2 separate regions of the Homo sapiens genome follow, and region 1 is linked to region 2. Evidence: fine-mapped expression QTL. A gene starts in region 2. The other region holds a variant in brackets. All regions are shown on one strand. Distances are from middle to middle.

Evidence for each region. PIP is the estimated chance that this variant, and not a neighbour inherited with it, causes the effect. A credible set is the group of variants that fine-mapping cannot tell apart.
Region 1: its variant is the best candidate, but not a certain one, in a credible set for the expression of GIHCG in nasal epithelium (TOPMed, PIP 0.71).

Annotation. Positions count from the first base shown.
Region 1 is chr12:57,971,801-57,983,866 of GRCh38, forward strand. It overlaps the pseudogene RN7SKP65 and the pseudogene ST13P8. Among named protein-coding and RNA genes, the nearest start is that of ATP23, 36 kb to the left of the region's middle. The variant G/A (reference allele first, on the strand shown) is at 5,994.
Region 2 is chr12:57,930,577-57,942,642 of GRCh38, forward strand. GIHCG (GIHCG inhibitor of miR-200b/200a/429 expression) reads right to left here and starts at 5,588. Exons shown (of 3, transcript NR_038269.1): 1 at 5,263-5,588; 2 at 4,894-4,977; 3 at 873-1,161. ATP23 (ATP23 metallopeptidase and ATP synthase assembly factor homolog) reads left to right here and starts at 10,991. Exons shown (of 6, transcript NM_033276.4): 1 at 10,991-11,312. The coding sequence starts at 11,126. RefSeq lists enhancers at 5,013-5,513, 5,514-6,014, 10,860-11,669.

The DNA.
Region 1 (12,066 bases), 41 kb after region 2:
TCGATGCAAAAAACCTCAACAAAATACTAGCAAACTAATCCCAGCAGCATAATAAATGGATTAGAAACATGACCAAGTGGGATGCATTCTTGGAATACAAGAATGCCTTAACATATGAAAATTCACCATTATAATACATAACATTAACAGAATAAAGGAAAAGAAACACATCATCATTTCAATTATTGCAGAAAAGGCATATGACAAAATTCAACACACTTTCATGATAAAAACACTCAACATGCTAGGAATAGAGAGAAACTACTTTAACATAATAGAAGCCTTAATGAAAACTCATACAGAACATCATAATCAATGGTAAAAGACTGAAAGTGTTTCCTCTAAGATCAAAAACAAGGTAAGGATGCCCACTTTTACTACTTCTATTCAATATAGTGCTAGAAGTTTTAGCCAGAGCAATTAGGTAAGACAAAAGCATCTAATGAAAGGCATCCTAATCAGAAAGGAATAATTAAAATTGTTTATGCTCACAAATGATATTTATCTTCTATTGTCTTGTATTTCTGCTCACAGATAATATGAAAACCTTAAAGATTCTACAAAGAAACTATTAGAACAAATAAATAAATTCAGCAAAGTAGTAGGATACAAAGTTAACATACAAAAAGCTGCACTTTTATAAATTAATAATAAACAGTCTGGGCTGGGCACACTGTGGCTCACACCTATAATCCAAGCACTTTGGGAGGCTGAGATGGGTGGATCACTTAATCTCAGGAGTTCAAGACCAGCCTCGGCAACATGGTGAAACCCTGTCTGTACAAAAAATTACTAAAATTAGCAGGGTATGGTGGTGTGTGCCAGTAATCCCAACTACCCGAGAGGATGAGGTGGGAACATTGGTTGGGCTGCAGTAAGCCATGATCACGTCATTGCACTCCAGCCTGGAAAACAGAGTGAGACTCTGTCTCAAAAAACCCCAAAAACCAGTCTGAAAAGGAGATTAAGTAAATAATTCAATTTAAAATAGTATCAACAAGAATAAATTATTTAGGAATTAAACAAGAAGGTAAAAGACTTGTGAAAAAACAATGAAAACTACAAAATATTTCTGAGAGAAATTAGAGAAGATGTAAATAAATGGAAAGACACCATGCTCATGGGTTGGCAAACTTAATAACATTAAGATGTCAATACTGCCCAAAGTGTTGTACGTATTTAATGCAATCCCTTACATAATTCCAATTTTTTTTGCAGAAATAGAAAAACTCATTCTAAAATTAATATGGCATGGTGGCTCATACCTGTAATCTCTACACTTTGGGAGGCTGAGGCAGAAGGATTGCTTCAGCTCTGGAGGTCGAGGCTGCAGTGAGCCAAGATCGCACCATTGCACTCCAGCCTCAGCAACAGAGTGAGAGTTTGTCTCAAAAAAAAAAAATTAAAATAAAATGAACGTGGAATCTCAAGGGACCAAAATAGCCAAAACAACCCTGTAAAAGAACAAAGCTGGAGGACTCCCACTTCCTGATTTCAAAACTTACCACAAAGCTACAGTAATCAAAACAGTGTGGTGGTGGCATAAAGACACATATACAGATCAATGAAACAGACTAGGGAGTTCAGGAATATATCTTCACTTACATGGTCAAATGATTTTCAACAGTGTGCCAAGACTCTTCAATTGAGGAAAAAACAGTCTTTTCAACCAGTGGTATTGGAAATACTGGATGTCCACATCCAAAAGAATAGTGTTGGATCCTTAGCTAACACCATATACAAAATTAACTCCAAATTGATCTGCTACCTAAATACAAGAGCTAAAATTATGAAATTCTTAGAGGAAAACATAGGGGAAGTGCTTCATGAAATTGGATTTGGCAATGATTGCTTGGATATGAAACCAAAAGCATAAGGAAACAAGAGAAAAAACAGGCAAATTGGACTTCATGAAAAAGACAACCCACAGAATGGGAGAAAATATTTGCTAATCATGTATCCAATATGAGATTAATGGCCAGAATATATAGATAACCCTTAAGACTCAAGAAGAAAATGCCAAACAACCTGATTCAAAAATGGGCAAAGGACTTGAATAGACATTTCTCCAAAGAAGATATACAAATGACCAATAAGCACATGAAAAGATGCTCAACATCACTAATCATTAGGGAAATGCAAGCAAATTAAAACTATGAGATACCACCTCATACTTACTAGGATGGCTACTACCAAAATAGTAGTACAAACAGAAAATAAGTGTTGAAAAGGACGTGGAGAAATTGGAGCCCTTGTGGATGGTTGGTGGGAATGTAAAATGATACAACTGCTATAGAAAACAGCATAGTGGTTTCCCAAAGAGTTAAAAATAGTTTTATCTGAAAGTCTTAATAAAGAAAAAAAGAGAAAGAAAAAAGTTAAAAGTAGAATTACCATATGATCCTGAAATTCCACTTCTGGGTGTTACTCACAAGAATTGAAAGTGGGATCTCAAAGACATATTTGTGCACCATGTTCACAGCAGCAGCATTCACAATAGCTAAAACATGGAGGCAACTCAAGTGTCCATTGATGCATGCATGGATAAGCAAAATGTGGTATATCCACACAATGGAATATTATTTATGTATAAAAAGGAAGGAAATTCTGACACATGCTATGACATAGATGAACCTTGAAGTCTTTATACTGAGTAAAATAATCCAGACAAAAAAGGACAAATATTTTATGATTCCATTTATATGAGGTACTTACAGTAGTCAAAATATTAGATACAGAAGGTGGTTCAGAGCTTGGGAGAGAAGAGAATGGGGAGTTATTGTTTAATGGGTATGAGGTTTTAATTTTAAAAGATGAAAAGAGTTCTGGAGATGGAGGGTGCTGGTGGTTACACAAGAGTATGAATGTACTTAATACCACTGAACTGTACACTTAAAAATAGTTAAGATAGTAAGTTGACTTGCTATCTCCTCCTCATACTCCAGGTTTCAGTTTAAATGTTACTTTTTCTGGACATTTTTTCTTGAGCCTCCAACCTGGGTCTCAACACAGGTTATATATCCTCAAATATATGCTGTATTACATACCCCAGATCACCCTGCACTTCCTCCTTGATGAAGCTGTTCCCCATGGTGACAAAGACTCAGCTCATGTTGGTCCTTCCTGTATCCCTGGTGCCTACATCAGCACATAGTAGACAGTGAGTGTTTAATAAATACTTATTGAATGGGTACAATGTCTATTTTTTCTTCAGATTGAGTCCCTTTTCATGCAGTGGTTGGGAGAATGAATGGGAGCTGTAGTTTCCTAGTGAGCCCTGATCTGAGTCCAGCCACCTTGACTCTTCTGAGGCTCCTCAGGGCTTCCTACTAATAGGTGGCCCCATTAGTGGGCTGCCTGGTATGGCTTTGACCCTACAGATCCAGATTTGGAGTGTGCGTGTCACTTTGACCTTTGCTCTGGGACTCTGAAGCATTATGTTAGGAGAGTGTTTTTGGCTCATTGTAATTTCCCCCCCCTCGTATTTGATCACTTTGGTTATGAGGTAGCATGAATGCAGTTAGCACTCAGAGAAGCTGCCACTTGCCACTTAGGGCATCACACAATTTTTGTTTTCCTTCTAACTTAACATCTGTACCTGTTGAATAAACAGTGTTGTTCAATAAAACTGCAGATATTCTACTTGGTAATTTCTATAGAACCAAATTCAGCTCTTGGGGACTGTAACACTCGCATTGCAAAAGTTAGAAGTAGAAATCAGCAGGGAAGAGAAAGAAGAAAGAGAATAATGAAAGAAAAATGCAGGCTTATTAGCAGAATGCTTGGCTCTTGCTTCTCGAATATTTTAAATTCAGAAAAAAGTTAAAAAATTCAAGTGCAATCTTATCATTAATATAAATTAACATTTATTAATTATACACTTAGGGCATTTCTCTGAAGTGAGTTTAATGAACAAATAACTAGGTTTGGTAATATCTTGGCTGAATATCACTATCCTCTTGAGAAGGTGAATAGTTGAAATAGCATGGTCTGATTGCTACAGACTAACATTATTCTGTTTCATTCTCCACTCTGCTCTTCCTTCTCCCAAGGGCACAAATGAACAAAACAATGGTTTCTTAATTGTTTAGCACTCAATTTTCTGCCTAGCAAAAACTGTGCGGTTATGCCAGTTCTCATACAGTTTTAGTTAAAATAGAAGATTATTGCAATTAGAATTCAGTGCATATTAACCTTTAATTCATTTCTACCAGTTTAAACAAACTCTATTGTAGAAAATTTCAAACATTTACGAAGCAAACCAAGAATAATAAATATCCTTGCACCCATGACTCAGGTTTGACAATTATCAACATTCTGCCCTTTTGTTTAATCTATACTTTCAGCCACTATCCACATCACATTCATTTTTTAAAGGTAAATTTCACCTCTAGTGAGATACCCAAATAATAACTATACAATTTGGACAATATGTACATTTGTGTAACCCACATCATAAAATTTAGAACACCCCATCACCCCAGAAAGTTCCTTCCTCTTTTTTCTCAGTTTCCCTCTTTCCCACCATCCAGCTAACCACTCTTCTAAGTTTTTTTCACCATAGATTGGTTTTTCCTGTTCTAGAATTTCATACACATGGAATCATTAAATATATTTTCTTTTGTATCAGGTTTCTTTTGCCCAGCATGTCTGTGAGTTTCATTGCTATTATTGCATTTATTATTAATTCATTCTCTTTTTATTGCTAAGACATGTCCCATGGTATGAATATAAAACAGTTTGCTTATTCATCCTCCTGTTTATATATAATGGGTTGTTTTTAGTTTTAGGTGTTGTAAATAAGGCTGTTAAGAACATTCTTGTACAAGTCTTTTTGTGGATATGTTTTCCTTTCCACAAATAAGTAAAATACCTATGATAGAATAGCAGAGTCAAAAGATATATGTATATTTAACTTTAAATGAAACAGAAACCTTTTCCCAAAGTGGTTGTGTTATTTCAGATTCCTACCAGTAGTGTATGTGAGTTCTATTTTCTCTTATATTCTAACAAATATTGTCAGTTGTCTTTTTAATTTTAGTCATTCTAGTAGGTGTGTAGTGGTTTCTTATTGTAGTTTCAATTTCCACTTCTTTGATAACTAATGATATTAAACAATTTTGTTGTGTTTATCAGACAATTTTAAATTTTAAAATAAATTTCCTTTGTAAAAGTGTCTGTTCAAATATTTTGCCCATTTTTTCTTCGATTGTTTTTCTTTTTACTATTGAGTTATAAAAAGCCTTTGTATTTTCACTTAAAAGTTTTTTTAATCAGATAAATGTTTCATGAATATTTTCTTCCAGTCTGTGGCTTGCCTATTCATGTTCTTAACATTTTCAATGAGCAGAGTTCTTTAATTTTGAAGTTTAATTTACCAATTAAAAACATTTTGTGGTTATTGCTTTCCGTGTCCTAACAAATTTTTGTCTACTCCTAGTTGTGAAAATAGTCTTTTACATTTTATTCTAAGAGCTTTATAGTTTTAGCTTTTATATTTGAGTCTATAATATTTATATGAAATTCATTTTTGTTTATGGTGTGAAGTAAGAGTTCAGGTTTACTCTTTTTCTTATAGCTGTCCAGATGTTCTAGAACCATTTGCTGAAAATACTTTCCTCATTGAATTGCTTTGGTGTCTGTTGCAAATCAATGGACTATGTATGTGTGGGTCTATTTCCAGATTTTATATTTGGTTCTACTGATCTATTTATTTATGTTTAAGCCAGTAATACACTGTCTTGGTTACTTTATAGTAAGTCTTAAGGTCAGAAGTGTAAGTCCTTCAGCTTTGTTTTTCTTTTACAAGGTTGTTTTGACCATTCTAGGTCTTCTGCATTTCTATACACATTTTAGAATCAGCTTGTCAATTTCTATGAAAAAGCCTGCTGAGATTTATGAATGGGATTGCACTGAAGCTATAGATCAATTAGGGGAAAATTCTCAACAGTATCAAGTCTTCCAAATTATGAACACTCAAATTAATGGACATA[G/A]AATATGTCTCAATTTATTTAAATCTTCCTTTTTTTTTTTTAGCAATTTTAAATATTTTTCTTTTTTCTTGTTTATTTATTTAAGACGGAGTCTTGCTCTGTTGCCCAGTTTGGAATGTGGCAGTACAATCACAGCTCACTGTAACCATGAACTCTTGGGCTCAAGTGATCCTCTTGCCTCAGCCTCTTGAGTGGGTGGGAGAGAGGTGTATGCCACCACAACTGGCTAATTAAAAATTTTGTTTTGAGAACTTGTTTGGAGGTTCTAGCAAGGGAGTGCAGCTACTCCTATACCCTTGACCAAAGACTGCAGTCCTCCTCTATCAGGGATGGTCATCCTCTTTGACCGAGTGCACAAAGGGCTAATATACATGGAGCAGTGAGGGAGGAAGGGGACACCCGCCTAGCCAGCCAGATCAGCCAAATCAACCCTGGCCATCAATAGGGTGACAGATGTCACAGCCAGATCAAGTCAGCTTCATCCCTTGGATGTAAGCCTGATTCAACATATGCAAATCAATAAATGTAATCCATCACATAAACAGAACCAATGACAAAAACCACATGATTATCTCAATAGATGCAGAAAAGGCCTACCTTTGAAAAAATTCAGCACCCCTTCATGCTAAAAACTCTCAATAAAATAGGTATTGATGGACTGTATCTCAAAATAATAACAGCTATTTATGACAAACCCACAGCCAATATCACATTGAATGGGCAAAAGCTGGAAGCATTCCCTTTGAAAACTGGCACAAGACAAGGATGCTCTCTCTCACCACTCCTATTCAACATAGTATTGGAAGTTCTGGCCAGAACAATCAGGCAAGAGAAAGAAATAAAGAGAAAGAAACTGGGCAACAGAGCAAGACTCTGTCTTAAATAAATAAACAAGAAAAAAGAAAAATATTAAAAATTGCTTACAAAAGGAAGATTTAAATAAATGGAGACATTCAAACAGGAAAAGAGGAAATCAAATTGTCTTTGTTTGCAGATGACATGATTGTATATTTAGAAAACTCCATCATCTCAGCCCCAAATCTCCTTAAGCTGATAAGCAACTTCAGCAAAGTCTTAGGATACAAAATCAATGTGCAAAAATCAGAAGCATTCCTATACACCAGTAATAGACAAACAGAGAGCCAAATCATGAGTGAACTCCCACTCACAATTTCTACAAAGAGAATAAAATACCTTGGAATACAACTTACAAGGGATGTGAAGGACCTTTTCAAAGAGAACTACAAACTGCTTCTCAAGGAAATAAGAGTGGACACAAACAAATGGAAAAACATTCCATGCTCATGGACAGGAAGAATCAACATCATGAAAATGGCCATACTGTCCAAAGTAATTTATAGATTCAATGCCATCTCCATCAAGCTACCATTGACTTTCTTCACAGAATTGGAGAAAACTACTTTAAATTTCCTATGGAATCAAAAAAGGGCCTGTATAGCCAAGACAATCCTAAGCAAAAAGAACAAAGCTGGAGCCATTGTGCTACCTGACTTCAAACTATACTACGAGGCTCCTACAAGGTTACAGTAACCAACACAGCATGGTACTTGTACCAAAACAGATATATAGACCAATGGAACAGAAGAGAGGCCTCAGAAATAACACCACACATCTACAACCATCTGATCTTTGACAAACCTGGCAAAAACAAGCAATGGGGAAAGATTCCCTGTTTAATAAATGGTGTTGGGAAAACTGGCTAGCCATAGGCAGAAAACTTAAACTGGACCCCTTCCTTACACCTTATACAAAAATTAACTCAAGATGGATTAAAGACTTAATTGAAAGACCTAAAACCATAAAAACCCTAGAAGAAAACCTAGGCAATACCATTCAGGACATAGGCATGGGCAAAGACTTCATGACTAAAACACCAAAAGCAATTACAACAAAAGCCAAAATTGACAAATGGGATCTAATTAAACTAAAGAGCTTCTGCACAGCAAAAGAAACTATCATCAGAGTGAACAGGCAACCTACAGAATGGGAGAAAAATTTTTGCAATCTATCCATCTGACAAAGGGCTAATATCCAGAATCTACAAGGAACTTAAACAAATTTACAAGAAAAAATCAACCCCATCAAAAAGTGGGAGAAAGACATGAACAGACACTTCTCAAAAGAAGACATTTATGTGGCCAATAAACATATGAAAAAAAGCTCATCATCCCTGGTCATTAGAGAAATGCAAATCAAAACCACAATCAGATACTATCTCATGCCAGTTAGAATGGTGATCATTAAAAAGTCAGGAAACAACAGATGCTGGAGAGGATGTGGAGAAATAGGAACGTTTTTACGCTGTTGGTTGGAGTGTAAACTAGTTCAACCATTGTCGAAGACAGTGTGGCTATTCCTCAAGGATCTAGAACCAGAAATACCATTTGACCTAGCAATCCCATTACTGGGTATACACCCAATGGATTATAAGTCATTCTACTATAAAGACACATGCACATGTATGTTTATTGCAGTATTATTCAGAATAGCAAAGACTTGGAACCAACCCAAATGCACATCAATGATAGACTAGATAAAGAAAATGTGGCACATATGCACCATGGAATACTATGCATCCATAAAAAAGGATGAATTCATGTCCTTTGCAGGGACGTGGATGAAGCTGGAAACCATCATTCTCAGCAGACTAACACTGGAACAGAAAACCAAACACCAAATGTTCTCACTCATAGGTGGGAGTTGAACAATGAGAACACAACAGGTAGAGGAACATCACACACCAGGGCCTGTTGGGGAGTAGGGGGCTAGGGGAGGGATAGCATTAGGAGAAATACCTAATGTATATGACGGGTTGATGGGTGCAGCAAACCACCATGGCACGTGTATACCTATGTAACAAACCTGCATGTTCTGCACATGTATCTCAGTCCTTAAAGTATTAAAAAAAAAAATCCACAAAAATTAGCTGGGTGTGGTGGCACATGCCTGTAGTCCCAGCTACTCAGGAGGCTGAGGCAGGAGAATCGCTTGAACCCAGGAGATGGAGGTTGCAGTGAGCAGAGATCACATCACTGCACTTCAGACTGGGTGACAAAGTGAGACTGTGTGAAAAAAAAAAAGGCATTGGCTTTGAGGTGAAATATGAATGCTTAAGGCAGAATACCTCAATACCAGTTTATATTATTAATTCTGGAAAGATTTTAAAGACAATGTTATATGCACTGTTTTCTACAACGTGTCCCTATAAACCATTTTTGAGGGCATTGGAAGATTATGGTGGCTGTTTCCATATTAAAATGTTAATGTCTGAGTCAAGTTGGTGGTTTTTGAACCTGAAAGATCAAATAGTTCTATTTAATTGTATTAACCAAATTGATTTTAAACCAGCGGAATTATTTGCAGTGCTTAAAAAGTCATTATTTTCCATTCAAGTGAGATAAATGGGTCACCTTGGGATTTGCAGCTGGAGTTTTCCTTTATGATAATATATTGGGAACCAAGTCATTTGTCCTAATGACACTCTCAGCAAAGGTTCACCAAACCTGTCTTGATTAATTTTTCAAAAGCACTTGAAGAGATTTACCAATTACACTTTCAGGGGTTGATTTGATCAGCTCCACATGGTTGCACAATCTGCATCTTGCTACTTAAACTCCAACAGACCAAAATGGTTAAAAGAGGTCTGATGGAAATAAACTATGAACTCAATTCTAATGTGGTCTAAACTTGTATGCTTTAAATTACTGCATATTTGGGATGCTGCATATAAAATGATCTAATGCAAATTCTCAAATTCTGAAAAAGTAGTGAGGGAGCAAATATTAATTCCATTTTGCCAGTGAGAGATACTGTGACAGAAAACGATAAAGGAACTGAAGATGGCACACTGAACACCACCACAGGACGATTAATCGTTTTCTTTCATCTCCGCTCCCATCCTTCGTTTCTGTGGCAGTTATCATTACATTCTGGCAGTAATGTGGTGGTAAGTAATCTGCATTTTCAATTCTCACAGACATTATACAGTTCCATTTTGAAACAAATTGCTTTTTCTTTTTTGGTCTCTTCTAAAATCTTTCTTCTCAAAGTATGGTCCTTGGCTTAGCAGCAATGGCATCAACTAGTTGCTAATTAGAAATGCCCAGATTCTGCTAGATCAATCTGTTTCATTCATGTGTATATTAAAATCAAGAAGCACTCTCTGGCCAGGCGCAGTAGCTCACACCTGTAATACTAGCGACTCTGGAGCCTGAGGCAGAAGGATCTCTTGAGGCCAGGAGTTTGAGACCAGCCTGGACAACATAGTGAGACCGTGTTTCTAAAATAAATAAATAAATAAATAAATAAATAAAATTAGCCAGGCATGGTGGTGCACCTAGTCCCAACTACTTGGGAAGTTGATGTGGGAGGATCGCTTGAGGCCAAGAGTTCGGGGCTGCAGTGAACTGTGATTGTGCCACTGTACTCCAGCCTGGGTGACAGAGTGAGAATCTGTCTCAAAAACAAACACACAAAATCCCAAAAAACTTCCACAAGTTCAGCTGTGCAAGCTTGAGAATCACTGCTTTAGCATAATGTTGCATCTGGGTGGCCTCACTTTCAAACTTACCATTCGTAAAACGGAATTTTTATATGCTTTTTATATAGTATGTTTGTTGCTCCATAAAGGAAGTTGAGGAATTCAGGATTGTTCTTACTTAATCCATCCATTAATTAAATAACTCTTCTTTTAAGAACAAATGCTTTTAATCTCATGACTAACAAACCTTGTTATGTCAATTTGTGCATTAAGCATTGTTATGTGAAAACCTACTCAGCGTTTCACAAAATGTGAGGAAAGAAATAGAAAATAAAGAAATGTGTTTGGTTTTAGTCATTATTACGGTAGGATAAACTCTGATTATCATAACAGAAAAGAATTTCAATTATGAAATTCAGAGCACACATGAGAATAGATAAGGTCACTAGGTAAGATACAGGAAATCCAGTTAAATTTGAATTTCAGATCAACTGTAAATATTTTTTTTTTACCTAAGAATTTAGCATTTTTTAGTATAAGTATTTAGTAGAAATAGGTTCCATGAAAGTACCTGGGACATAGTTTTATTTGCTAAATCTGGCAACCCTAAGAAATAAGCCAGGCAAAATGAGGGGTAAATTATTATATTTATAATCATTAAAAATTGGAACCTATATGATATGCTATCAGGCCAGCTACATAAGTTACCTTTTATAGAATATTTTACAATTAAGGAGCAATAATGTATGCTGTGTTCCGTGATTGCAGCTCAATATGAAATCTCTAAGTAATTTTGATCAAGAAATTTCTTTGCGTTGATGTCGAAACACAAGCAATAATAATTTAAAATAATCCCATGCATCCTGATTACCATTCTACTAATTTTATTAATTTATGTGTAAAATGTTGAACCAAAACAATACACTGCAATGTTCTTAAAAGAAGAGGAGAGAGAGAGGAAAAAAAAAGGAGAAAAAGAAAAGCCATACCGAAATTCTGAGCTGTTGGAAAACTCAGCCAGCAGCAGAGGGCACTAATGTATCACTGATGAATTGTGCATCACAAGAGGCTTAAACATTTTTTTTTTTTTGCCTCGCACTAATAAACTTTTATTTCACTCAAATTAGAGCAATAATCTTCCATACATAAGTATTTTCCCTGCCCAATAATTCAAATAAAAAAATCCAAAATGATTAATAAAGAAAAATATAAGAATTAACAGACCCTTTAAATTTGTTTTACATATTTTTAAGGTTTAAAAAGGGTTTAAAGTTTGTAATTCCTAGTAGGAAAACATTATCTGAATGAATACTCTAATGGCAAACCACCGTAAAATGCTTCAGCTGCATTCGGGGGAGAGGGGTAGGGATTATCTTCAAAGCACTCCAGCTCTCTTGATGAGAAGGTCAGAGGTACACCGGTTTGTATTACTGCATCATCCATAAGGTGATCTAGGTTGCTTTTCCTTCAGCAATGCCTTTATTTATCGGAAGGGCATTAGGCTTGACCTCCAAATTTGGCTGACAATTTACTGATAAGATTCATAACCTTTGGATTGCTCTGGTATTTTGA
Region 2 (12,066 bases):
ATTTTTTTCTTAATTATTACTCTCCCATGAAGTTTCAATACCACATATATACTGTATATTTGTTTATGTGCTTTACACACATATCTATGCTTTAGAAAAAAAAATTTCCCTCAAGAATCAATTTTCACCTCCTTGTTGCGATGTTGCCACCCCGTGAATTCATGATATAGGTATTCCATATCCTATTTCATATGTGTACTACTTTTGATATTCCAATACTGCATTATCTATATTTATACATATATTTTGTTTCTGTAGGATATATTTCTAGAATTGAAAGGCTGTGTTGTTATTAATATTTAACATTTAATTGATATTGCTAAAGACTGTGCCAATTATATGCCAATCAATGTATATTGAGAATCTGGCTTCAATTTTTACACTTAAGTCACAAATCCATTTGAAATTTATTCTGGGAATAAGGTAACGATCTAATTATCTTTCTCCTCTAAATCTAGCTCAATGTACTTATATACTTTACTGGATTAATCTTTTCTTGATGTACCACATATTAAATTTGGTAAGTGCTCTTAGATATATTCAGGCTTTGAATTCTGTTCCATGACTGTTTATTTATTCCATTACCACTCTATGTTTATTATTCTTGTTTTATGCTTTGTTATATAATACAATTTCCTTTTATGAATTCTATTTTCTTGTTTTTTTTTTCATGTTTTTTTTTCTCTCAATGAATTTTGGAGTAATTCTGTTTAGTCCCAAACAAGCAAACAACAAAAACAAGCTCTTAAAATACTTTTGGGATTAATATTGGAATTTTACCAAATTTGCAGATTAACTTAGTGAGACTGTAGAATACTTTTAGAGTACCTTATAGAGTTACATTTAAAATAAGACAGAGAAAAAAAGAAATGTTGATTTAATGATGTATACTTCTATATTAGAATATTTTGAGCTGTCAATGACAAAAATCCAGGTAAAACCCAAGGTTAAGTATAAAAGAGAGTTTATTGGCTCATTCAACGGATAAGTCCAGTGGTAAAACTAGTTTTCAGGCATGTCTGGATCTCTGGGTTCAAACAATGTCATCAGGACTTGGTCTCTCTGTCTTCCAGCTTAGCTTCTTTAGCTTCAATATCAGACAAACCTCCATGTGGTTGCAAAGGTGGCCTGTCTGCTCTGTGTCTGTATGTTCTTTAGCACCTGCAATATAACATCAGAGGGAGAGTTTTTTTTTTTTTTTTTTTTTTTTTTTTTTTAATAGTGCCAGCAGGCCAGGTGCGGTGGCTCACGCCTGTAATCCCAGCACTTTGGGAGGCTGAGGTGGGTGGTTCACCTGAGGTTGGGAGTTCGAGACCAGCCTGACCAACATGGATTAACCCTGTCTTTACTAAAAAAAAAAATTAGCTGGATGTGGTGGTGCATGCCTGTAATCTCAGCTACTTGGGAGGCTGAGGCAGGAGAATCATTTGAACCTGGGAGGTGGAGGTTGTGGTGAGCCGAGATTGTGGTGAGCCAAGATTGCGCCATTGCACTCCAGCCTGGGCAACAAGAGCGAAACTCCATCTCAAAAAAAATATATATATATAAATAAATAGTACCAGCAAAAGTACCAATGATGGTTCTCATTGGTCAGGTCTGAATCAAGTGTAGGAATGGGGGCAGTGTGGGCAGTTGGGAATCAGCCTCACTTGAACCAGCTAAGGCTGGTGAGTGGTGGTTTCCTGAAAGGGATGTGGAGCAACCGAAAAATCAGGAATTATACACCATAATACCTATTTATGTATTTATTTATTAGATGGAGTCTCGCTCTGTTGTCCAGGTGGGAGTGCAGAGGTGCGATCTCGGCTCACTGCAACCTCTGCTTCCTGGGTTCAAGTGATTCTCCTGCCTCAGCCTCCTGAGTAGCTGGGATTACAAGCGCCCATCACCACACTCAGCTAATTTTTATATTTTTAGTAGAGACAGGGTTTCACCATGTTGGCTAGGCTGGTCTTGAACTCCTGACCTTAGGTGATCTGGCTGCCTTGGCCTCCCAAAGTGCTGGGATTATAGGTGTGAGCCACCACGCCCTGCTGATAATACCTGTTTATAAAAAGAGGATTTAAAAGCAACATTAGGAAATATTACTAAGTTGAAGTTCTAATACTATTTTTTAGATTATGAAGTTATTTTAGGGCTAAAGGTGAAAAGAAACCAGGCCATTGGGCAAGAAAACATGATGATAGACATTAAAAAGTTACTTGTAATTGAACAATATTTGTTAGAATTATAATGCTTATTCTTGATGTTACTCTTCCTCCATTTCTTGATCTCATCACTGCTTAGATTCTCCAAAATCTTGCTTCATAAATTTGTCCTGTTTTGCAGCTTAATCTTGTCTTTTATTTTTTTCCCCTGCTCCTAAGGAACCCCATTCCCCACCTCCCTAAACAAATCAACAAGCCTTTCAATTCTACTGCTTTTTATACCTCCTCTTCTTATATTCATTGGCCAATTGTTTAAAGTCATCAGTGATTTCCTTAATCATCAAATCCAATGAACTTGGACCCTCCTTGATGGCTTGCTGTCTCTGTAGTATTTGACAATATTGACAGAACTTTCCTTCTTGAAACCCGGAATCTTAGTTCCTATGAAACCCACTCTCCTGATGTTTCTCTTAGCTTTCTGATGACTTTTTCTCTGTTTACTTTGTTGGTTTTTCTTCTTCACCTTCTTTATATGTGGGTGATTCTCAAGGTTCTGGCTTCAAACTGTTTCACTATTCACTCTTTTTTTTTTTTTTTTGGCAGTTTCAAATACTTTCAAAAGAAGGGTATACACTTTTTTTTTTTTTTTTTTTTTTGAGACAAGAGTCTCACTCTGCTGCCCGGGCTGGAGGGCAGTGGCTGCCTCCCCTGCTCAAGTGATTCTCTTGCTTCAGCCTCCCATGTAGCTGGGATTACAGGTGTGCGCCACCACACCCGGCTAATTTTTGTATTTTTGGTAGAGACGGGGTTTTGTCATGTTGGCCAGGCTGGTCTCAAACTCCTGACCTCAAGTGATCCACGTACCTCAGCCTCCCAAAGTGCTGGGATTACAGGTGTGAGCCACCACACCCAGCCTACATCTTCTATTTAACTGCTTCTGATCAGTTCCTCTCCCAACACCTGTGTGATCTAATCCTAACTGTCCACTATCTAGAAAGACAGAGCTTAACTTCTTAACTTCTTCTAAAAAGATCTTTCCCTTCTGAATCCCATGGTACTTTTTTTTTTTTAATGGCACTACTTTAAAACTTGCATTAGCTCCTTATGTGTTAAGACTTGTCTTACTTTCTGGCCTATAAAGTCGCTTTTCCTTTTTCTTTTTTTTTTTTTTTAAGGAGATGGGGCCCCTGCTCTATAAACTTCTTTAAGAAGATTTTCTTCTTTTTAAACTTTTATTTTAGGTTTGGGGGTACACATGAAGGTTTGTTGTAAAGATTATTTCATCACCCACGTATTAAGCCTAGTACCCAATAGTTATTTTTTCTGCTCCTCTGCATGCTCCCACCCTCCACCCTCAAGCAGACCCCAGTGTTTCTTGTTCCCTTAAGATTTTCTAATTCAACTCTGCATCTCCTATACTGTAAAGCACAGTGTTTTGTATTTTTTCATTTGTTTTTTCAACATACATAAGCACTGACTATGTATTGTGCTAGGAGCTGGGTAAGTGGTTAAAAAAAACCCCGTGCTTTCTGCCCTCAGACAGTTTAGAGTCTCGTGAAAATACATATTGTGATATATAATCAATAAAACTTTATTGAAAGAATGAATCTTACATCTTAAACTCCTTTTTCATCTTCTTTCCCCAAACTCCTGACCTACATTCCTGCGCCCTTTCCCCTGATAAATCCCACAGATTTCTCAAATCCAGCAGCTGAATTGGATTCATGTGCTATGGATACACATAAATAAGTTTGCCCCATGTTCAAGAAACTCACAATAAAGCACCTTCTCTCCCCAAACCTTCTGCTGATTTTAGTATCAATGTTACTAACTCCTTCTTATTACCAAGGGGAAATCTTGGTATTCTTTTTGACTTCTTCCTCTTTTTCATATTTAATTCTTTAATTCAAGCAATTATCCCTCTTGTTGAGGTCCTTTCACCTATAGCAGAGGTTGAAAATTAGTGACCCACAAATTGTATCTAGCTAGTAGAGGTGTTTTGTTTTGTATAATATTATCAAAAATATGATTTTCCTGTTTCTCCTGAAAAATCAGGCAACACTGAGTCCTTATTTTTGCAAGAATTGGCTGGAGTTTTAGATGGGACAGCTCAATCAACTCTAACATTCCAATCTCTATCACTCCTTGCTTTTGTCACATTCAGTCCATTTCCTCACTTATGAAACTTTCTTAGTCCCTAATTTAGGCATCTGAGTTTGCCGTCTCTGGCCTATATGATCATAGACTGTCAGTAGTGGAAGAGATATTAAAAGATCAACTCGTCTAACAGTCTCCTGCTTCCTCTCCCCACTCTTTAAGAGACGGAGAAATGAGGTCTAAAGAGCTTACATTACCCAATCAATTTCATACAGCTAATGTGTAACAGGATTCTATAATATGCCATTAGGCCTCCTCCCTCATACGGATCATGTTAAACTTATATTTTCCCTTTGGTTTAATTGCTAGGAACCTCAGAGCCCAATTTGTGGCACCCCTCTAGTAAATACACGGACCTTTTGGTATGAAGTTTTGGGGTATTAATATACCCCTGGCTTTATTTTGTTTTCCAATTACCTTTACCTCAGTTTCTCTTCATCATTTTCTCCTATTATAGTGTGTATTTTTTTTCCCCAAGCATACTCAATCTTTTGTGAAAGAGGTACATCCGTACAGGCGTAAACTGTCGGGCTGTATTGTCTGGCTCCCAATTTCTTTCTTTCACTGTCATTCTGCTTTGGCTACTCACATTCTCTGTTTTCCTTGACAGCCAAACTTCTTGAAAGAATTGTCTTCACATGCTGTGTCCACTTCATCCTGTCTTTTCAATTCACTGTAAACAGATTTAAAGCCTTCAATGCCTTCTTTGTTGCTATGATATTAATACCAAAATTATATTGTATTCATCCATATATGAAGGACACAAAATGGTTTTCCCTAAATTATCTCAACTATGAAAAAATATGCAGAGAAAAAAATTAATAGGTAATGCATGAAAATGTTACTTCTGGGTAGCTGGATGACTGGTGAGATTTATTTTCTTTTAAAAATTTTCCACAGTTTTAAAAACAAGCGCATTAGAACACATCCCGATGTAAATTAGAAATTCTCAACTTACATTTTCTAAAAGGAGGCAGAAAACTAGAGAAGCGACAGTGAGGAGCCACTGGGCCACACTTCATTTCACCTTAAGACTGACTCAGAGAAAAACAAGAGGGTACGACTCAGATCCCCGGGGCCAGCAGCAGGGCCGCGGGGCACGACTGGATAACCGCTTGTGAAGAAAATTTTAAGAGAGCCCTCACGACCCTTTAGCGCATCCTAAAAGACCTCTGAATATCTCTGCCTCTCCCGCTAACGGCTCCAAACCGCAGATAACGGTCAATCGCCTCCGGTTGTCCTGGTAACAGCCAGCAACCACAACCCTGCCTGCGTAACTCCTCCCAGAACACCGTGCGTCTTATCGCTTCACTTCCGGGTTCGGAGGGCCGACTTCTTCCGGAAGTATCTGCCTGCCAGTCACCTGGCGTTTTCTGGCTGTGTGGCTTTACTAGACAGAATGTGGCGTATTGTTGGGCAGGGCCCTGAGGACCCTTTTGTTGTTTCCCCCCCGTTTAACAGGACTGGAAAGCTAAGCAAAGGCTTTACTCTCACGGAATTGGATGAATTGGACGTTAGTTTTTAAAAAGCCGAAGGGTACATGTTAGCTTTATTTAACCATTCCACAATGTATATATATTTCAAAACATGTTTTATACTATAAATATAATTTTTATTTGTCAACTAAAAAACAGCATTAAGTGTTAAAAGCTGTTAAGTCAGAATATAGAGATGAATCTTTGAAATTAGAATGCTTTATTTGGGAAGAAAATAGTAATTTGGGGCATATATGTAGACTGGGGTGGTCTTCGGGATGTCTGAAGAGTGAAGAGGTTAGAGACTTTATAAGAAGGAGAAATGTTACGTATTGGTCTCCAAGAGAGTTTATTGGCACTATTAATGTTTTGGTGGGGTTGGCAAACTGATTGCTGAGTGACGGTGGTGGGTAAAATTAGTCTTAGAATTGTAGCAGACTGTCTTAGTAGCCTTTAGATTAAATTGGTTTTAAGTGTTAGCAGGCAGTTTCAGCAGCCAGGCCTGTAGAGAATTATATTTTTCAAGTGATATTTGTGACCTGAATGTTTTTTCCCTCTGGCCTCTCCACTCTTTAACTGGTATGACAAAAGTGACCCGATTTATATGATCAACTTTCACAGCTGACAGGTGGTAAACTCTTTACAATTATATGTAATTTATTTGTTACTGTGATAGATTTATACAATTTTAAATAATTTAGTTCCCATTAAAAAAGCAATTATTTTTGCTTTAGAAAATGAAGGCCAAAAAAACCCCCAAAACACAAAACCTCCAAATCCTACCCATTTAAGGACAACCAATGTGAATACTTTGTAGGAGTCTTCCAGACCCTTTCTATGAATTATAGTAAGTACAAATTCAAAATGGAATCATACTGTATATGCTAGTTTGGAACTTAAAAAACTTTTTTTTTTTTGAGACAAAGTTACTGTGTTGCCCAGGCTGCAGTGTAGTGGCCCGATCTCGGCTTACTGCAACCTCTCCACCACCTGGGCTCAAGCAATTCTCCTGCCTCAGTCTCCTGAGTAGCTTGGGATTATAGGCGGCGCCACCACACCCAGCTAATTTTTGTATTTTTAGTAGAGATGAGGTTTCACCATGTTGGTCAGGCTGGTCTCGAACTCCTCATCCCAAGTGATCTGCCTTCCTCGGTCTCCCAAAGTGCTGGGATTACAGGCATGAGCCACCCGCGCCCAGCCTGAATTTTTTTTTTTTTTGAGCTGTTGTCTTGCTCTGTCGCCCAGGCTGGAGTGCAGTGGCGCGATCCCAGCTCACTGAGGCAGGAGAATTGCTTGAACCCAGGAGGCAGAGGTTGCAGTGAGCCGGGATGGCGCCACTGCACTCCAGCCTGGGCGACAGAGCAAGACTCTGGCTCAAAAAACAAAAAAACAAAAAAACAAAACAAAACACCCAAAAACTTTTAATGAACATATTTTGTTTAAAAAAGACACTTAACATGGTTGTATATATTCCATTATACCTCTTGTTGGATATTTAAACAATTGATGTCTTCCCCTGCCGCCCCTTTTTTTTGAGGAGGAGGTGTCTTGCTGTATCACACAGGCTGGTCTTGAACTTCTGGGCTCAGGCAGTCCTCCTGCCTTAGCCTCCCAAATAGCTATGATTACATGCCACTGGCCTGGCCATTTTTGCTCTCAATTAGTGCTGCAATGGAGAAATGAAAATCCTTATAGCTAAATCTTTGCCCTTGCTCTAATTTCTTTGTGGTAATTCTTTTTCTTTTTAAAACTCATTTGTATTTGCTGTTCATTATCTCTTCCTTAATGTGTTTTTATTCCATACCTATGTCTTTATACTGTATACAGATGAAGTTACACATGGCATCCAAAGCCCACTTGATTTTTTAAAGTTTATTTTTCTGATTATAAAGGTAATACATGCTTATTGAGGAACATTAGAAAATTTCAGGAGAATGTAACAAAAAAATTCCAATACCTAGACAACCATTGATACTGTGGTATGAATTTTTTTCCATCTGTTTCTTCAACAATGAGTATTGAAACAGTTTTAGCTAATTTAGTAAGGAAATGTTGCAGCTTTTGGTTTGTACGTTTTTACTTATTCCTGTAGCTGAAGGGTATTGCAAATAGTATCCAGAAATAAAGCCACATACCTACAACCAACTGATCTTAGACAATGACAACAAAAACATATAATGGGAAAAGACACTCTATTTAATAAATGGTGCTACACAAAGTGGATAGACATGCAGAGGAATGAAACTGCACCCCTTTCTTTCACCATATACCAAAATTAACTCAAGATGAATTAGAGTTAAATTTAAGACCTGAAACAATAAAAACCCTAGAAGAAAACCTAGGAAAAACTCTTGTGGAGATTGACCTAGGCAAATAATTTATGAGCAAGTCCTCAAAAGCAAATGCAACAAAAACAAAAACAGACAAATGAGTTTCATTAAGCTAAAAAGCTTCTGCATAGTAAGATAAAGAATCAAATAACCTACAGAATGGAAGAACATATTTACAAACTGTGCATCCAACAAAGGACTAATATCCAGAATCTACAAGGAACTCAACCAGAAAAAACTAAATAACCCTATTCAAAAGTGGGCAAAAGACAGGAATAGACATTTCTCAAAAGAAGACATACAAGTGGCTAATAAACATGATAAACTTCTCAACATCACTAATCATCAGAGAAATGCAGATTAAAACCACGGTGAGATACCATCTTGCACCAGTCAGAATGACTATTATTAAAAAGTCAAAAAACAACCCGATATTGATGAGAATTCAGAAAAAAGAGATTGCCTATACACTGTTGGTGGGAATGTAAATTAGTACAACCTCTGTGGAAACTAGTATGGAGATTTCTCAAAGAACTAAAAATAGAACTACCATTTGACCCAGCAATCTCACTACTGGCTACCCAAAGGAAAACAAATTGTGACTGGGTGTGGTGGCTCATGCTTGTAATCCTAGAGCTTTGGGAGGCTGAGGCAGGAGGATCACTTGATGCCAGGAGTTTGAGACCAGCCTGAGCAATATAGCAAAAAACCTCCATCTCTACAAAAAATTAAAAAGTTAACCAGACATGATGGTGCATGCCAGTAGTTCTAGCTACTCGAGAGACTGAGGTGGTAGGATTGCTTAAGCCCAAGAATTCAAGGCTGTGGTGAGCTATGATTACGCCACTGCACTCCAGCCTGGGTGACAGAGCAAGAACCTGTCTCTGAAAAAGAAAAAAAAAAGAAGAAATTGTTATGACAAAAAGACAAAGACATAGAATCAACCATTAACCTAAGTGTCCACCAACAGATGGTTAAAGAAAATGTGGTTATGCATACACCACGGAATACTATGCAGCCATAAAAATAATGAAATCATGTCTTTTGCAGCAACATGGATGGAGCTGGGGGCCATTATCCTAAGTGAAATAACTCAGAAGCAGAAAATCAAACACCCCATGTTCTCACTTATAAGTGGAAGCTAAAGACTGAGTGCACGTGGACATACAGAGGGGAATAATAGACACTGGGGACTCCAAAAGTGGGGAGAGTGGGAGGGGAAGGGTGAGGGTTGAAAAATTAACTATTGGGTACAATGTTCACTGTTTGGGTGATGGGTACACTAGAAGCCCAGACCTCACCACTACACAATATATCTGTATAATAAACCTACACATAAACCACCTGAATCTATGTATTAAAAAAGAAAGCATGAAAAAAATCCAAATAGTATTTCAAATGTATATAGGCTATGGTCCATTTCTAGGCATATCTAGCCTGCCTTCAGTATTCCAAACTAATCACACTGAATTGTAATGGCTTAGTTTTCCATATGTGTGTTTTAGTTCAATAACTGGATTGAAAGCTAGTTGTGTGGTCCTAGATAAATTATTGAATTTTGCTGAGCCCACTTTATCTGCAAATTAGAGATAATACTTACTTTGCAGGGTTGTAGTGAGGATTGGAAATAATGTATCCAAGGTGAATTTAATTAAAAAGTAGTTACTTTTTTTTTGACTTCTGGCTTTAATAGTCTATGTACATAGGAGTTGTTTGTATTTTTATAATATTCCAGATGAATGACTATCCTAGCATCCCACTCAATTTAGATATTGAGCATCTATGACACATAAAGCACTGTTCATAACCCTAAAGGCCTGCTGAGCCTATATTTTTCAGATATGTTTCTTACATAAACCACATGCTGCTCTTCATCTTTAGCAATTTTCTTAGTCATGTGTTTCCTCAGTCTCTTACACCTTGCCTGGCCCATCATAGTAGGTGCTGAATAAATGTGTGAGCTGAGTGGAATAATTTAGTAGGAAAAGAGAAACACACAAATTGGATAAAACCTGGCAGGCTACGATGAAAATGATTAACAGGTACAAAGTGCTTTGTACATTGGGAGATCAGGAGACATTAATTTTGATTAAGGTATCTGGGAATGCCCTGTGGAGTAGGCAGATTTGACCTGGGCCCCAATCATAGGGGCTGAGGCAAGGAGCTTAAAGATGGAAATGACAGTATGAGTTAAGGCTGAGAGGTAGAAGTAAACAGGGTGCGCTTTGTTATCAGGGAGTTATTGGTGGGGGGTGGGGCAGAAGAGTAGGGTAAACGAATGGGTACAGGTGGGAAGAAAAAATGTAGTTGGTTCCTACATTTTGAGGATTTTGATGTGACTAGTCATTCTTTATAGTTTTAAAACGTTTCTGAAAAACACTGCTTTCAATATGGCCAGAGGCATCTTTGGGCAGAGTGGATCTGAGGGATGGCAGGGGTCGGGAAAGTGGCGGGCCAGAAATGACAACTGGCTTGCCCCGGAAGAAGGCAGGGAGTGGGAGGATGGCCGAGACCTTCGGCGGCACAAGAGCAGTTAGTGGCCAATATTCGCCCCGAGGTGAGGAAGGAGTGTCTGCGAGGAGGCGGGACACCCTTAGAGCTCAGCAGGCAGCAGGAAGCTGCAGAACAACGCTTATAAAGACATGTCACCCACACTGGGAGGGCAGCAGCGAAATCCGCGGCAGCCGGGTTGTTACAGCCTTTGAGGGAAGTCGCAAGACCCAGCTCCGCCCAACAGCATCGGGCCCCGCGCCCCGCCCCATGCCCTCGCCCCGCCCCTCATCCCTCGCCCCGCCCCTCGCCTCTCGCCCCGCCCCTCGCCTCTCGCCCCGCCTCCCGCGCTCCCCGTCAGGTTCAAAGCCCCCTCCCGCCTAACGTCTTCAGCCCAGCCAGGCTGCCCTTCTTCCCTGCGGAGGGAGGGCCTGGGCGGTCGCGTTGGCGGGAGGGAGGTTACCTTTCCCAGTCTCGCTCTGGCCGCCTGAGCCAGGAGGAAGCAGCGGCGAGGTCTGCGGGAGGCATGGCGGGAGCTCCGGACGAGCGCCGGCGGGGCCCCGCGGCAGGGGAGCAGCTGCAGCAGCAACACGTCTCTTGCCAGGTCTTCCCCGAGCGTCTGGCCCAGGGGAATCCCCAGCAAGGGTTCTTCTCCAGCTTCTTCACCAGCAACCAGAAGTGCCAGCTTAGGCTCCTGAAGACGCTGGAGACAAGTAGGAGCCATGACCTGGAGGCTGTGGTTCCACAGAATGGGTCTGAGACCGGGTGGGCGAGGAAGGGCCTGGGCAACACCTGGCCAGGGGCTTCAGGTTCAGCACAGAGTCTAGACAGACTGGGCATCATGGGGGCTGGGTTGGGAGCCTGAGGCTCAGTTTCCCCACTAGAGGTGGCGCTGAGACCCTTTTCGTCGCTGTTTTTGGCTTGTGGAATGAATTTGTCTGCCCTTTTTTGTCACTCACTGTTGTGACAGATCCTCCGATTTCTTACATAAGTTATGCAGCCACACTGTGACTTCAGGGTAAGGGTGAGGCCAAGTTTTAAAGTGCCAGCCAGGTTAATTAAGGCACACAAAGGCTGTAAAAATGTAAAAATGTAATTAAGGCATACCAAGGCTGTAAAAATATAAAAGCAGTTTTGCAAACCTACCGTTCCTTGGAAGTGGTTCATGCATGAATGGGCTTCAGAGCGTAGAAATCCCTGAAATGGTCTGTGAAATCGTGTGTATGTGTGTGTGTGTGCCCCTAAGTGCATTTTTTTTTTTTTTTTGAGACGGAGTCTCGCTCTGTCGCCCAGGCTGGGGTGCAGTGGCGCGATCTTTGCTCACTGCAAGCTCCGCCTACTGGGTTCACGCCGTTCTCCTGCCTCAGCCTCCCGAGTAGCTGGGACTACAGGCGCTCGCCACCACACCCTGCTAATTTTTTGTATTTTTAGTAGAGACGGGTTTTCACCGTGTTAGCCAGGATGGTC